Regions from separate parts of the Homo sapiens genome. Here region 1 is linked to region 2. Evidence: fine-mapped expression QTL. A gene starts in region 2. The other region holds a variant in brackets. All regions are shown on one strand. Distances are from middle to middle. Region 1 has its middle 98 kb from the start of MIR4642. Region 2 holds the start of MRPS18A (mitochondrial ribosomal protein S18A).

Region 1 (8,331 bases), 850 kb after region 2:
CGACAAAGAGGAGGTGGGGTAAAGCTGGTTTTGTGGGGAGGCAGGCTCTAGAGGATGAGGATCAGAACAGAGCAGGAGGGTGGGGGTGGAGGGAAAAAGAAACAGAAAAACGTGCAAGTCATAAAGCAGCAGGGAGCCCTGCAAGTCATTAGATAATTAATCAAAGTGAAAAATCAGAAAGCCAGCCTTGGCTGCCATTATGGGGTTGCAGCTGTTTTTGGAGTTTGATTGAATAAAATCTTTATGAAGTTCACGTTTTGTCTCTAATTTCCTCCCTTGTTCTCTCCCATTCTGGGGCCTCATGTTCCCTGACTCCCAGATGTGGTGATAGGTGGTGGCAGGCAGCTGCCCTCCTCCACCCCCCACCCCCACCCGCCTCCCGCCCAGTCCCGGCTTGTCTTGGCCCCTCTCTGCCCTGGCTCCGGTTCAGCTTTCTCGGAGATCTGAATACCCAAGCCCATGCCTCTTCCCATCTTTGCACCCTTTTGGGCTACAGACCAAGTCAGGAAGGGATCTCCTGGAGGCTGACTATTCTCCTACAGAACGGAATGCATTGTGGAGCCCTCCAGATGCTGGCCCCTGCCCCAGGGTGTGAGAGTGGGCTGGGGTCCAGATGGGTGGAACGGGGCATGATAGGTACGGTCAGGCAAGGAGGTTGGCTACTCAGTGTGTACATTGTCAAACAAACTCATCTTTGCTTTACAGGGGACTCAGTTTCTTCATTGGTAGCCTTGATTGACAAAGACCCATTATATGGAGAGTAAAGAAATAAAGGCATTGAGCATTTCCTGAGTTCCAGGGACTTTTGCCTATATGATTGAGTGCTTCTCACCACAGTGCTGCAAGGAAGGCATTTACTGAGGAAGGAGAGAATGTAGAATTGAAGAGCTTACGAGATGTCAAAGTTTGCAGAATGATTCAAAGAGGCAAGGCCAGAGCTCCCAACCAGGCTTCTTGTTTCTAAAATCTGCCAATCAATATAACTCTGAAATATTGAAATACGGCCCCAACCCCAACCCCACCCCACTGCTGTTGTAGGGGAGAAAAGCAGTGTATTTTCCTTACCCATTGCAAGGTTCATGGCTGAGACCCCGTAACAAAAGACAGATTAACAATAGAAAAGTGCTTTTAGAAAAAGCCCAATGTAGAAAAAGGTCCTATTGCCCTTTATACACTGGTCACCCACTGGACTCGGCTCTGTGGACCTGGGGCCACTTCTTGTTCAGCTGCCGATGCAGGAGTGGCGTCAGAGGATGTGCTTTCTACCTTGGACCCCACACGCAATGGAAAACACTGCCACCTCTTTGTGGAAAGTTGTTGCAGGTTGGCTTCCCTGGGAAGCAGACTCTGAGAGGGAGTTTGTGTGCTAAGGATGCTGGGTGCCTGGGGAAGGGGAGAGGGAGCAGGCATGGGCAGAGAGAGAAGCCAAGCTGCAGGGCAGGCCAGTGGCAGCCCTGGCCCCACGGGGAGCTCTGGAGCTAGCATGGCCCATTTACAGTGGACCTGCTTTTGACCCAGGTGGCTCTTCCAAGTCCCCCAGTCTTGCTTAATCACTGGATGTGGGCTGGCCGGGAAAGGACATGGCCTTGAGGGAGATTGCTGTCTACAGCTGAGTCAATGGCTGAGGGGCCAACAGCTGGGATTGTCTGCTGCTAACACTGCCCGCAGCTGCAGAAGCAAGTCTTTCCTTGAAGGGGGATCTGGGTGGTGCATGGCCACAGAAGGGGTCCCAGTACCCCCAGGAGTATAGCTGCTCTCTCCTGGGCTCATCTCATCCTGGGCTCATCTTTCCTGGGCTTTGTACGTGCTTGTATTAAAGCATTGATGGTGTAAAGTGGTGGTTATTGGGCCTGCCGGCCATCATCACTAGGACAGAGGCTGTGATGACACGCTCATATGGCTGTCTCTAGCATGGGGCTCAGAAGGGGGTCTGTAGACCCACATATGGTCTGCTCAGGTGCCCTGCAGCTCTGCAATGTGTGCCATGAACCTGCCTTGTGAAGCCACTGAGCTGCTCCCACATACCCCTGGACCCCAGCTCCTTTTTAGGGGCCTGCCCAGTGTAGAGCTGGCCCCTCCCCACTACACCTTTGGGGTACCCACATTTTGCTTGCCTCTATTTTGGCTCCCAACTCTGCAATTTCAAGGTTATTTTCCTTTCTGGGGCTCTTTGGCTGGTGCTTGGATCCCAGGGACCGCTTCCTGGATTCTGGGAGTGATATGGGGAAGGAGAGAAGGGGGTTGCTTGTGGGCACCAATAGTGGTGCCAGCTCACAGAAGGCTGGAGTGGTGGTCCTGAGGCTTGGGGCTCGGCCTTCATCAGAGGTTTCACTCTGCAGGGAAGCAGCTGTAGACAAAGAAGCCTTGTTCTTGGGGGACTCAGCAGGGAGGCAAAGGGTCCTTTCACAGCGTCTTCATCCCTGCCAGGGAAAGCCGGGGCTGGCTGCCATGTGGAATGCATTTGCTCCTGAAAACCACAGTGAGAGCCATGGCAGTGTGGGTTGGTCAGGGCTGCCTCCTCGAGAGGCCTGGGTCTTTGTGGGGCAGCCATAGAGTACAGGGTGCCGACAGGAGCAGCCTGGGTCAGGGGGAGCCCCCAGATTGACCTGCCCCCCGCACACCAGAGGAGCCCTGGGGTGGGAGTTCTGGACCCGGCCTACCTGGGCAAGTCTCAAGGCCTCCACAGCCATCCGTTTCCTCCTCCTTCCCTGCCCACCTGGCTGTCATGGGAGGCTTAGTCATGCACTTGCCTCAATGTCCTCTGTGGGTCTCTGTTTCCCGGGCTGGTTCCTGATTTGCCTTGACTGTTCTCCTCTCTCTTCTGGACTGTGTATCACTCACCTTTGAATCCTCAGGGCTGGAAAGCAGAGGCTATGTCCATCTGTTTCTCCCAGTCTCTGTCCCACAAGCTTCCCATGCCCATTTCTATCTTTGTGATTTCTTCCATAGATTTTACGCCTTCTGCTTTCTCTCTCTTTCCCATACCCATCCAAAGTTTGTCCCTCAAGCTGTCACTTGAATGCCACCTCCTGAGTGAAATTCACCTCGACTGCTCCAGCCGCCTGTGCTAGTTAGTACTCCAGTAGGGCAGAGCACACGATTTGCTTTTGTTTCAAGGCATGCTCATCCTTTTGCTCAGGAATCTTAACTCTTCATGGCAAGAATAACATGATAATGAAGATAGTAATAGCTAGCTGAGGCTCTGAGATGTTAAGTAACTTGCCTAAGGTCACACAGCCACAAAGTGGCAGAGCTGAGGCTGGATGGGAGCTGCCTGGCTCTGAAGACTGTATTGACATTTGCTGTGCTTTCTCCCTGGGTCGCTGGTACTCCATTATGGCCTTGATAGAAACCACCCTTCAGGTTGTTTAGGTTGGAGAGTTGGTGTGAAGGCAGATGAGGGCTCCTAGGAGGCAGGCAAAGGGGGGACTTGTGGCCAAACCTCAGTTTCTCATGCCGAGGAGACATTGGTACTAGGACTCTGAGGTCAGACCCACACTTAAAAAATTGTTGCTTACTTCCCTTTAGTTCTACATCCCAAGAACTTGCTTCATTTCTTGCTCTCAGTGCAGGAGCTCCTCTCGCTGTCTCTAGCAACTTACGCTTCCTGTGAAACCTCATCCAGGTAAGTTTTCACTTCACACTGCAAAGAATAATAGTGGGGGGTTATTTTTATAGAAAAAACTCCTCAAAGCTGAGCAGTCTTCCACTCCTGGGCAGACAGCAGGAGGCTGCAGGGCAGCAGTGCCTGGAGGAGCTGGAAAACGTTCACTCCATGTATAGATTTCCACTCACCCCTGACTACCACCACTTGCGGGGGTGAGTTTCAATATTCCCTGGTCATCTGAATCCACTTATGTGTCTTTAATCACAGGGGCCTGGGTGTCTTTGAGTCCTTCCTGCTCAGCCTCTCCAGGAATTTGGCACATAGGAATTCTTGGGACTCTCCTACCCTTTTGGAGAGATTCGACTCAAACTGCCTTCACAGAGCCTTCCATTTATTCCTCACTGGGGCAAGGAGGGAAGTGAGGTCTCTCAGCACCTACTATGTGCCAAGCATGTTGCTGGGTGCCTTGAGATCATAAATTACAATTCTTACATTTTCTGCAACACATTGGTTTGTCAGAAGCAGATGCTGAGATGGAGTTTGGAGCAGAGATGTTTATTAGAGGTTAACACTAGGGCAGGAGTGGGGATGGGGGAGGAAGCAGGATATGCAGAGAAGACATTGAACTGTGACACAAGCTCTACAAAGCTTTGATCATCCCTGAGAGGAGTGTAGAGCAAGAATTGCCCATCAGTGTCCGGTATTGGGCTGGAATGGCTTGGGCCTATATATCCCCATCTGGCTTTGTAGCTGGATGCAGGTTGTCCTGGGAAGGAAGTGGCCTTAGGAGTGGTACAGCTCTGTTGCTGAGCCAGATCCTGAAGGAGCCAACACCTGGGGGCTGTCTGCTGACTGCAGCCCCAGAACTGGGGGCTGTAATGGGTCCTGGAAGGGGAATCTAGGAAGTGCATCTTTGTGTCTACAATATACGAAGTGGTCTTCCTATCCTTATTTTACTGATGAGGCTCATAGAGAGTATGGCACTGCCTGTGGCCACACAGCTAGTAAATAGCAGAGTCTGGATTTGAACCCAGGCCTGCCTGAAGTCAAACCTCATGCTTTTTCTGTGAAACAGAACCATGGACCTCGGGGAGGAATAAGGAGCATGTAGTGATGTATAACATTTGTTTCTAGGGTTGTTCATCAGTGTTTGTTGTGCAACTGGGGGGAGAAAATTGGTTCTAATAAGCAGA[T/A]AACAGGTAGTAAAGGACAATGTGTTAACCCCAGGTGCCTAGGAAAAAGCTTTGTAACTCCAGAGGCACGGAGGAGGTAGGCACTACATTCATCTTTGCAATGTGCCTGTGATTTGCCTGCATGGAGGAAAGGAAAAAGTACTCTAGATAGCAGGTACAGCCTCAGCAAAGGGATGGAAGTTGGAATTGACAGAGGCTGGACAAGGGAAAGTGGGCAGAGGGACCTGGTTTGACGGGAGCAGTGCAGCCAAATAAATGAAATGGTACTGGGACTATGAAATCCAGTTTCATTCTGCTCACCTCCACAAGCTTTTCCGGAGCATCTACTATGTGCCAGGCAGCTGTCAGTCCAGAGGAGCCCTGAGCATGCACACAGTGGGCCAGAGAGTGCTCTTCATCCCCGTGCCGAGAAGACCTCAATCATCGCTCTGTCCTCTAGGCTTTGTAACTGGAGCCAGAAAGTCCAAGCCAGTCCTAGGGATGTGCCCCCGCCTGCAGGGGCCACTGCAGAAGAAATGCTGAGGTCAGCCCTGCCTGAATCTAAACCTCCTGGGATTGGGATGAGTCAGGGAGAGGCCCTGCTAGGGATGTAGGAGGAGGGCCACTTAGCTTCTCTACCTGCCATGGTGAAGGTAAAGCTGCTAATGCCACCCTTTGGGTCCCTGGGGAGGACAGAGTGAGGCTGAAATTAGTCCTCAAACATCCTAGGAGTCCTCAGGGTGAGGCCTGGGGGACCAGCCTACTTGGGGGTGAGGAGGCGGGAGAGTGGGTGCAGGGGACAGTGCTCCCTCCGGCAGCTTCCCAGTGGTGGGATTTCATGCACCTGTAAAACAACAACAAAAATAAAGAAAAAGCAAATGCACATCTTGATTCGGCCTAAGAGCTGCCTGGTAAAAACATTAGGAAAAAACCCCCCACTGTTATGGGTTGAATTATATCCCCCTAAAAAGATATGTTGAAGTCTTAAATCCTGGTGCCTGTGAATGTGACCTTCCTTGGAAATAGGGTTGTTGTGGATGTAATTGGTTAAGATGAGGCCATGCTGGAGCAGAGTGGACCCCCTGATCCAATATGACTGGTGTCCTTGTGAAAAGGGAACATTTGGGCACAGAGGAAAGATGAGGTGAAGACATAGACACCGGGGAGAAGGCCGTGTGAAGACGGAGGCAGAGGCTGGCATGCTGCAGCTGTAAGCCAAAGAATGCCAAAAATTTCTTGCCCCCATCAGAAACTAGGAAGAGACAGGAAGGATTAGCAGGAGGATGGCCCTACCCACACCCTGATCTTGGACTTCTGGTTTCCCAAACTGTGAGACAATAAATGTTGGTTGTTTTAAGCCAGTTTGGGGTACTTCGTTATCGCAGCCACAGGAAGCTAATACACTTGTCATCAATTTCACCCTTATTTAAGGATATTCTAACTCCCAAGGTAGCGATGACAATTTCAGGACACCCTTCAAGTTGAAAGCATTTCACTTTATGAAAAATCTACTCTGGGGACCTATTTCTCTCCACTCAACTTGGACCAATGAAAATGCCATCTCAGACCAGCCCCCATTCCCACACTGCTGTAGCTGAAGGAAATGGGGGAGGGCATCAGCCACTGTGGTCCTCGTGGGTTCTTGCCCTTTCTGGGCCTTCGTGTCCATGGGGGTTGGACTGTGAAATTCCTTGGGCCCCTCTCTCATCCGAGGCAGGGGGATCTGTAGGTGGAAAGCCGTGTGAGGGCTCAGGTATCAGTGAAGCATTTCTTAGTTACTTCTCACCCCGGAAAACGCATATCCAGAGCTGTGGGATGTCCACAGATTTGTGAAGGGGAAATTGGCCATATTGAGGGCAGCATGAATAATGCTTGTATCCATAAGACACTCAGAGGGCGCTCAGTGAGCACTGGGGAGGCAGAGATGATGAAGACTCCCATCTTCCAGGGCCTAGGAGAGAATGACCACTTTGGACTAGGATGAAAGGATAGGTTTTGTGATTGAGTGCTAGGATACACACCTGAAGAGCATCCATACTGGTGGCCCATGAGCACGCCTTGATCCGTGGTACTGTTGCCTGTGCAGTTTTCAGCTTTTAGAGCTACCTTCTCAACGTATCTTCTATGGGACATGTGTTCATTGTGATGTTAATGGAAGTTAGGTGGAAACATGACTTAGTGGTAAATTATACCTGAGAAAGATTGTGTCAAATGGCCATAAACAGATTTCTCTCCTGCAGGACTTCTCAGAGCCTTTAATATGCTAAAAGGTATTGTCAGAATGCAGCCTTTCTAAAATTCAACTGGCAATGGAATTTTTTTTCTCTTAAATATGGCGTATCTCCTGGGATTATTTTCTGGAGATTAATCTTTGGAGACCATTCTTCTAGAAACTAGGTTTCTGGCCAGGCACGGTGGCTCACGCCTGTAATCCCAGCACTTTGGGAGGCCGAGGCGGGCGGATCACGAGGTCAGGAGATCGAGACCATCCTGGCTAACATGGTGAAACCTCGTCTCTACTAAAAATATAAAAAAATTAGCCTGGCATTTTGGCACATGCCTGTAGTCCCAGCTACTCGGGAGGCTGAGGCAGGAGAATTGCTTAAACCTGGGAGGTGGAAGTTGCAGTGAGCTGAGATACCACTGCACTCCAGCCTGGGCGACAGAGCGAGACTCCATCTTAAAATAAAAAAAAAAAAAGAAACTAGGGTTCTGAAGTTTTCTAGGCGGTACCTAGTACCCTGTGCAACTTCATACTTAACCTTTCTTGCTGAATGCAGAATGATGTCAGAGTTGATGGTGATGATGGTAAGATGAGGTCATGATTGTGGCGGTGACACTGGTGATGAGAACATTGGTAATGAGGGTGGGTAGCTTCTTTTAACTTTAGTAATCCCCAAGAAGAAAGAGCTCCCTTTCTTCTTAGAAAGCAGACAGGCCTTCGGTATATCCGTGACATTATTAGGCTTTAGAGAGTTAATGACCTGGGCTGGCAGCAAAGAGATGGTGCCTAAAAAGTCAGGAATGTACCACTTAGGGAGGTCTGTAGGCCCAGGACTAATAAGACCTTAGCAACATGGGAGACCCACTAGGAGTGTGCACCCTTGTGTCCTGGAGCCTCTGTGGACACAAATGCAATAAAAAACATAAGATTTTCATCCCCGGGATTCCAGGAATGGTGAGTGGGTGGGTAGTGTTGTGAAGGTTGGTGGATTCATTCAGAAATGAGGCTGAAACACGTGTGGCTGCTTCTGAGCACATGAGTCCCCTCCATTCTCAGCTCAGCCATGCTGGAGAAGGCCAGATGATTTACAATATGGTTAGGCTTTGTGTCCCCACCCAAATCTCATCTTGAATTATAATCCCCATAATCCCCATGTGTCAAGGGAGAGACCAGGTGGAGGTAATTGAATCATGGAAACAGTTTGCCCCATGCTGTTCTCACGATAGGGAGTGAGTTCTCACGAGATCTGATGGTTTTATAAAGGGCTCTTTACCACTTTGCGCAGCACTTCTCCTTCCTGCTGCCTCGTGAAGAAGGTATCTTGCTTC
Region 2 (8,331 bases):
GTCCTAACCATGAGGTAAACAAGTCTAACAAAACACACATCACTCCCGGCAAAGTACCAAATCCTGAAGTCATCCCACTGGCCCCTGGAAAACAGATCAAAGCCCATGGCAAGCTCCACTGTTCACAAACTCCCCCTCCACGCAGCAACTGTGAGCCAGCGAATCATCTTACTAGAAGCCAGTGGGTAAAACAATAGGCAGATGCTTATCTAACAGAGACAATTTGTCAAACCAGAAGGAATGACCTGAGAACTCACATTGAACTGACACTGATCAGGGTGGTGTCTTAGTGCAGGGGGAGAAGGCCCTGTTGGAACCTGGTCCTTGAGGCCCTTAGTAGATTTTAAGCCCCTCGAAAGAGGAGATAGGAATCAAAATAGTATTGATTTACAGGGTGCATACAAAAACGTGTCAAAACCAAACAAAACCTGATCCATTTTGTTCCTGGCTGCCTCCCTATTCAAGAGAAGTGGGGGTGGCTAAGAAAAGCTGGACTGAGAGATTTAGGCAGTAACAGAAAACTTGTTTAGAAAAAGATGGAATCACCCTTGTGTTCTGAGATATGGCAGTATCAAGTAAGCTAAGGGAAGAGATGAAGCAGTTTTCTAAACTGGAACTAAGGGCCAAAATCTTTCCAGATAAGCACTTCTCATACACATGAAATAATCTGTCCCCAGTGAGGCAACACATTTGCTGGGCACTTATGGACTATACAGCTTCATTCTACCTACTGTGAATTACAGTAGAATAGGAGCCACAGTCTTTGCCCTAGAGGAGGAAAAGAACTAAACTCTGCATGGGAACTTGACTATAATAAAGTCCATGCCTCGTAAAGAGGTCCTTTGAGTACTTCAGTAAATACTTGCCCAGGATGGAGTCCAAGATAACTGAATTATAACAGTGTGGAACAAATGACATTGTGGTGAGATTGCAGTGAATGCAAAAGGAGGAGATGGGGTGACACCTATAGTCTCAGCTACTCAGGAGGATCACCTGAGCTAAGGAGTTAGAGGCCAGCCTGGGCAACACAGCAAGACCTTGTCTCTTAAACAACAACAACAACAACAAACACAGAAAATGCAAAAAACCTTGATGGCCACATGAACAGACACAGTGAACTGCAGCCATGTAAAGACTCAACTGCTTAATAAAAGAGGAAGTGAAAAAAGATGAGGAGTGCAGGGCACTGCTGAAGTGCCCAGAGACCAAGGTCCCTCTTGGAGAGGATCTGTAAAAACCAGGGCCCAAGCAGAGTAGGAAAGACTGGAGTAACTGATGGCTGGGCAGTGGCCCTAATAGTCTTATGTAGGGTCAGGGAGAGGTGTGCCATGTTTGGGATGTGTGCTTGCATTTCTGGCCACTGACAACTTTTTGCAAACACCTTCCTGCCTCAAGCCCTGCTTCCTCCAGTTCATCTTTAACTCTACCATTAAAGTTTCTGGTTCCCTCATCACCTCCCCCTTTCTTTCCCTTGGACCCCTGAGGGAATGTCCCTCTGCCCTATGCTTCAGAATGAGTCGTCTTACTGCTGCACAAAAATTTCTTCCCACTAGCAGGTTACTCTGGACTATGTCCCCTGAATTCTTTAAAGACTCCAACTCACTCCTCTCTCAAAGCTTTTATATGGGACTGCCCAACCTGCCAGGCATACCCTTGTCTGAAACGTTAGGTCTTCCAGAAGGCCTTCTTAACTGACTGTGAAAGAGATGAAGCAAATTCCCTTTGGCCTTTACTCACTTCAATATACCTTTCTCTAAGTGTCTGACAAATCATGTCTTAATTTATATAATAATATGTTTGTTTTTTTATTTTAAATACATTTCCTTCACAAGGGCTCTAAGAGGGATAAGGGAGGAATGAGATCCAACACAGTCTTTGCTAAATCTGGCAGTGCCAACCATAATGGCACTAAATGGTCTTTGGCAAGTTAACTGCTAAGAGCTTTCAGGGAAGGAGGGAACAATAAGGGAGGCCCTGCCATGGAATACCAAGGTGATGTTACTGGTGGAGAGGGAAGAGGGCTGGCTCTACTTCCAACTCCATCACTTATTAGACAGGTGATGCTGGGCAAGCTATTAAACCCCTTGGAACGGCATTTCCTCATTTATAAAAATGAGGACAGTTAATATCTACCTTTAAGGTGTTTTTGAGAAGACTGAATAAATGTATGTGGAAAACCTAGCACAGTATTTGAAGCAGGCACAGTAAGTCACAATTTCTATTTTCGTCCTCCTTCAGTCTTGCTTTTCCCATAATAACCTTTTTTTGGCTTTGTGTATCTCTCTGGTCAAACTTTAAACCAGGCTTTCTCAACAGCAGCAGGACTGCCATTTTGGGCCAGATGGTTCTTTGTTGTGGGGAACTGACTTGTGCATTATGTTTAGCAGCGTCCCTCGCCTCTACCCCCCAGATGCCAGTAGTACCAGTTGTGACAACCAAAAATGTCTGCAGACATGGCCAATTGTTACTGGGGGACAAAATTGCCCCCCAGTTGAAAATCACTGTTTTAGACTGAAAGTCTTCATAGACAGGAAAATTGGTGCTCAGTCCTCAAGAGCTGACTAAAATTATGTATTATTATCTGATACTTTGAAAAGTAGGATGCCTGAATATTTTCAGCAAGAGAACCAGCTTCTTTCCCACAACTTTAAATTCTATGTGTACAATATTGTTTGGGTGTCACATATACCAGCTGAGACTAGTCAAAATTAGCTATATGTATAATACTTTATGCCTTACACATAATGCATAGACTAGCAAAAGAAAATGTTTTCATTTACAAGCTTTGAAGATAGGTGATTCTTAAGAATATAGAATATGGTAGTGCCTTCATGTAGAATCATATTAATTCAACCTAACATTTAGATGAAGGACTTCAGAGACCCATTTGATTTACAGTCCATCCTTTTTTACTTTTTTTAAAGAGGTGGGCGTTCTCACTACGTTGCCCAGGTTAGACTCCAATTTCTGGGCTCAAGTGATCCTCCCACCTTGGCCTTCCAAAGTGCTGGGATTAAAGATATGTACCACTGTACCTGGCTTACAGTCCATCATTTCACAAACTCTCCAAAGGAAAAAATTAAGTCTAACTTCAAATATTTGTTGTTAAAACAAAACGATTCCTCTTGCCTTTTTTTCTGGAAGCATAGCAAAATCTGCCTCAACTTTGAATTTCATAAGAATATGCAAATTGTAGCCAATAGTGTTTGACACTTGGTAGACTCCCCAAAATGGTATGGAGATATGCCTATTTTGCAGCATGGGAACAAATGAAACATCCAAGTCCTCTCTATCATCTGCATGATTTCTTTAGTGTCTTTATTAATGGGTCTACTAATGGATAAGTTAATCAGGCAATATCCAGACTTTTTTTTCTAGCAAATGCTCCACTTCCCTTACGGGCTAAATTCTTCAAACATACTTACTATTTCCATCTCTTCATCAACTATCTCTTTCATTTCTCCAAACTGGATTCCTTGTTTGCCACTCTATTGAAATTGCTGTTTGAAAGCTACAAAGAGACCTCTTCTGAGACAAATCCAATGGCCCCTTCATTAGGCCCTTTTTAGACTTTTCTGCTCCCTCTGACAACAATGATCACTCTTTTCCACTGGATACTTCTCAGCTTTCGTTAAAGGATATGCTGCCCAATACTATGCCAGATCCTCAAAAAACCCCACATCTCTTCTTTTGCACATCACTCATCCTTTCCTGCTTCCAGGAGTACACAAAGGAAGGCTATGTCCTAAAAGACCGTTTCACTCTCCGCCAGATTCCATCCTTTTGTGAGCCTGCTCAAGACACATCCTCTTTATGAAAACTTCCAACTGGGTTTGCCGTTTCCAGTAACTGAGTCTCCCTGTACTTCGTCACGTAAAAGGCTAACTTGCATTTATTGGAGTGTGTATATACATAATCTCATTAGAACCTAAGCTTTTCAGAAAAAGGGCTGTATTTTCTGTCTCCAGAATTCCTTCACAGCTTGAAGCATAGCACTTGGCATTCAGTAAACTCTCAGTTGATGCTCGAATCAGGCCGCTTTCCCAGATTAAGATTAATGAAAAGCTGAACTACCATCCTGCATTTGCCTATGTCTCAGCTATTCAATGGCCTTTCCACTTTGGCCTCCCCCTCACAGGGAGACTAGCGGCCCGGGGCAGAGAACGCCGCCATCAGATCACAGCATTTTGAGAAGGGAAAGTGGAAAGGGAGGCTCTGGGAGGGTACCCAGATGGCCTTCCTTCGTGATCCAGAGACTCTTTAATAAAAGAGACTGCGATTCGGAGAACATGGAAGGAAGAATTAACATGCAAACCCTTTCCGAAAACTTTTCTGAGCCCTAGGACAGGTTTAGTGTCTGCTCCTGCTAAGTAAGCAGGCTTTTCTCTCCGTCCTCCTCCGCCTTGTGAAGATACTCACAAGGGGCAGGAGATCAAGATAAGGCACCAGGGTGTGGAAGGGGCTTTTAAGCACGCCTGGGGAGCCGGTACCTCCAAAGTTTCAGAATCGGACGAAGGAAAGGTAGGAAGGAGCGCACCGGGGCTGGCGGAAGCAGTCTCTGCCGCTCTTCTTAATTTCAGGAGGTTGCTGGGACGCATGACTCACCTTCCCTGAACCCGCGAGCTGGAAGCCGAGACCAGCTGGTCGCTGCCGGGCCCGCTAGTAGCCCACGGAGAAGCCGCCCACAGCCGGACACCAGAGCCTTGAGGGCCGCCATCTTCAAAAACCTACCCTGACCTCTCGTCCATTTCCGCTTCCGGAACGTAGCGCCCGCCGCCGCAGTGGTGGGGCAGGAACGGCGGGGCGGGGTTGTAGTTCGCTTGCTCCTGTCACATCATTTCTCTCACCTGTCCGCTTTGGGATACGAAGAGAGGCTTCTGCGTCAAGCCTATATTTCGTGTTAAGGATCTAGGGGAGGTCTTCTAGCTCCTGTCTGCCAATGCCTACAAGTCTTCAAGGTTGCATTCGTTTCCTGGAAGGCTTCCTTAGGAAAATCGCACGCAACACCCCACCTATGTCTTTAAAGCTTTCTCTTCACTGCACGTGAGCTGTGGACTTTTAGCTTCTGTGACTGGGGCTAGACCTCTACGGGAGAGGCTGAAATGGTTAGGAACTCTGGCTCTGGAGTATCGGATATCAGGCAGACCTGGGATAGAATTGATACCCCCTTCTTCCCTGACCACTGCCACACTGATCTTTGATTTGCATATACTTAGACCTCTCTCTAGCCCCAGGGCCTTGATACAAGCTATTTCCTTTGTCTGCTCTTTAGCTGTCTAGTTAGCTTCTGCTTATTTCTTAGAGCTCACCTCAAACCTTATTTCCACAGTTTTGCTTGACTGCCCATTCTCAGCACCAGATGCCTCTCCATCTTAGTGCTTGGGACAATTTCAGTTTTATGTTTGTTTTGTATGTGTCTTCTCACCAGACTGTAAGCTCCATGAAGTCAGGAACATTGTTTTCTGTTGACTCGCACATCTCCAGCACTTAGAATAGTTCCTGACACATAATAAGAGTACAATATATACTTGTTGAATGAATGAGTAGAATCTATTTTATAGGGCCTAGGGGAGGACTAGACCCTGAAGATTAGATGTGATAAAACATAAGTGATCGGCCGGGTGTGGTGGCTCATGCCTGTAATCCCAGCACTTTGGGAGGCTGAGGCGGGTGGATTACCTGAGGTCAGGAGTTCAAGACCAGCCTGACCAACATGGTGAAACCCTATCTACTAAAAATACAAAAATTAGGTGGGTGTGGTGGCGGGCACCTGTAATCCCAGACACTTGGGAGGCTGAGGCAGGAGAATCGCTTGAACCCAGGAGGCGGAGGTTGCAGTGAGCCAAGATCACACCATTGCACTCCAGCCTGGGCGACAAGAGTGAAACTCCGTCTCAAAAACAAAACAAAACAAAACAAAACAAAACAAAAGGGCTCAATAAACATAAGCTAGTTAATAGAGCAGTTATGGAGATGACTCTTTTCACAAGTTGGACTCACTTGTGTTGTAAGGAAGCTTATGGTACCAAAGAGAAAATACAACTGCCAGTTTTTCCTCTTTCAGATTTGTGAGACGTATAGGATGTTCCTCTGGAGCTCCACAGGAAAGGAAAATCATTCACAACTCAGTTCTTCCTATCCTTCTCTGATTCAAGATGGGAAAATCAGGCTTATTAAATGACATAGCATGTTTTCTGATGAGTAGGAGAGGAGCCCATCATCCAGTTGGGACCGTCACCCTAATAGGAGGATGCAGAGCAGCTGCTGTATGGAAAATGTGAGTGGCATCACCATAGACAGGGAGAACAGGAGAAATGCAGCATTGGGTTACGTTAAAACATCTCATTTAGCAAAGGTAAACCCGGTGAAGGGGAAACTTAAAAGAAAAGTCAATCAAGGTGGTAGAGACTGACACATGGATTAGGAGTGAAGCAGAGGGTCTTAGTGAGGTGTAGGTCTAGGTGTCCCAGCCAGGATCAAGAAAGCTTTGACTCTCCCTATAGCTTCCAAGTTTGTTCTGCATAGATGACCTTGAGCTTATAGATGTATAGATGACCTTTTGTGTTTGTACTACATCCTCTGTTTCTTCACCCATTTCCAACTTCCAGGAATCCAGTAGAGACAAGGGCAGCAACAGAGCCCCACCCAGGGCTTGCTTTGGACACAGTGAGCTAAAGCATTCGAGTGCCAACCCTCTTCTCATTATCTTATCTTAACTTATCATAAACAAATTTTATTTTAAAAAACAACTATGACAGGTAACATGTGATCATTGTAGAAAAATGAAACAATAAATAAAGTAAAAAGAAAATAAATGTCATCTAAAATCCAGAGATAAGCATTGTTTACATTTAGCAAGATGAAATAATACTGTGGATATTCTTTGCCTTATAATATCTTATTTTTCTGAATCCATTTATGATTAGTCCCTACAATTCTGTGAGACCAGGTTTGGATCAGGAGACTAGCTTTAAAAAACAACACATCTTTTAATTAAAGTATTACCTGTGTAAGAAAAATACACAGGCTGGGTACAATGGCTCACGCCTGTAATCCCAGCACTTTGGGAGGCCGAGGCAGGTGGATCACTTAAGGTCAGGAGTTCGAGACCAGCCTGGCCAACATGGTGAAACCTCATCTCTGCTAAAAATACAAAAATTAGCTGGGCGTGGTAGGCTCCTGTAATCTCAGTTCCTCAGGAGGCTGAGGCAGGAGAATCACCTGAACCCTGCAGGTGGAGGTTGCGGTGAGCCGAGATCACGCCATTGCACTCCAGCCTGGGCAACAGAGTGAGACTGTCTCAAAAAAAAAAACAAAAAACCCAAACAAACAAACAAACAAAAAACAACAAAACACACAAATCATCAGTGTACTGCTTGATGAATTTTCGCAAAGGGACACACTACCCATACTGGAGTGGAGTGGCATGTTCAAGCAGAACTTGACTGGCACTCTAGAACACCCCATTGTGTCCCCTTCCAGACACTACCCCGCAAGGATAATCATTATCCTGACTTTTAGCACAATACATTACTTTTCCCTGCATTTGACCTTTATATAATATTCCACTGTGAATATACTATATTTTAAAAAATCACTTTTTTTTCTGTTGATAGAATTTAGATACTTGCCACTTGGGACTACTACAAAGAGTGCTGTAACGTTCTTCTACGTGACTCTTGGTGAACACAAGAACAAACTTCTTTGGGGCCTATCTCGCGGTAGAACTGTTAGGTTGCAGGGTATGCCTATGCTCAGCTTTAGTAGAAGATATTGCCTTGACAGTTTTTACAAAAGCCTTTTTAAATTAAATTTTTTTTTTTTGAGACAGAGTCTTGCTCTGTCACCCAGGCTGGAGTGCAGTGGCGTGATCATGGCTCACGGTAGACTGGACTTCTTGGGCACGGGTGATTCTCCCACCTCAGCCTCCTGAGTAGCTGGGACTACAGGTACATGACACTATGCCCGGCTAATTTTCTGTATTTTTTGCAGAGGTGGGGTTTTCCCATGTTGCCCAGGCTGGTCTTAAACTCCTGGGCTCAAGCAATCTGCCTGTCTCAGCCTCCCAAACTGCTGAGATTACAGGCACGAGTCACCATGTCTGGCCCAAAGGCCAGGCTAGATACTGTCAAACAATTTTCCATAATGATTGTACCAGTTTACTCTGGTATCAACTGTGTGTGACAGTTCTAATTGCTCCACACCTTGTCAATATTTGATTTTTTTTTTTGGTATTTTTAATCTTGCCATTCTGGTTGGCGTGTAGTAGGATCTCACTGTGTATTTATCTTACATTTCTCTGATGCTTAATGAAGATGAGTAACTTTTCAT

The links. PIP is the estimated chance that this variant, and not a neighbour inherited with it, causes the effect.
Region 1: its variant is fine-mapped to the expression of MRPS18A in spleen (GTEx, PIP 0.92).

The regions. Positions count from the first base shown.
Region 1 is chr6:44,529,182-44,537,512 of GRCh38, forward strand. No RefSeq gene overlaps it. Among named protein-coding and RNA genes, the nearest start is that of MIR4642, 98 kb to the left of the region's middle. The variant T/A (reference allele first, on the strand shown) is at 4,801.
Region 2 is chr6:43,683,063-43,691,393 of GRCh38, forward strand. It overlaps MRPS18A (mitochondrial ribosomal protein S18A), which reads right to left and starts at 4,729. Exons shown (of 6, transcript NM_018135.4): 1 at 4,606-4,729. The coding sequence starts at 4,717. LOC124901320 (a long non-coding RNA gene) reads left to right here and starts at 5,900. Exons shown (of 2, transcript XR_007059586.1): 1 at 5,900-6,277; 2 at 6,609-6,831. RefSeq lists enhancers at 1,046-1,095, 4,483-4,542, 4,488-5,099.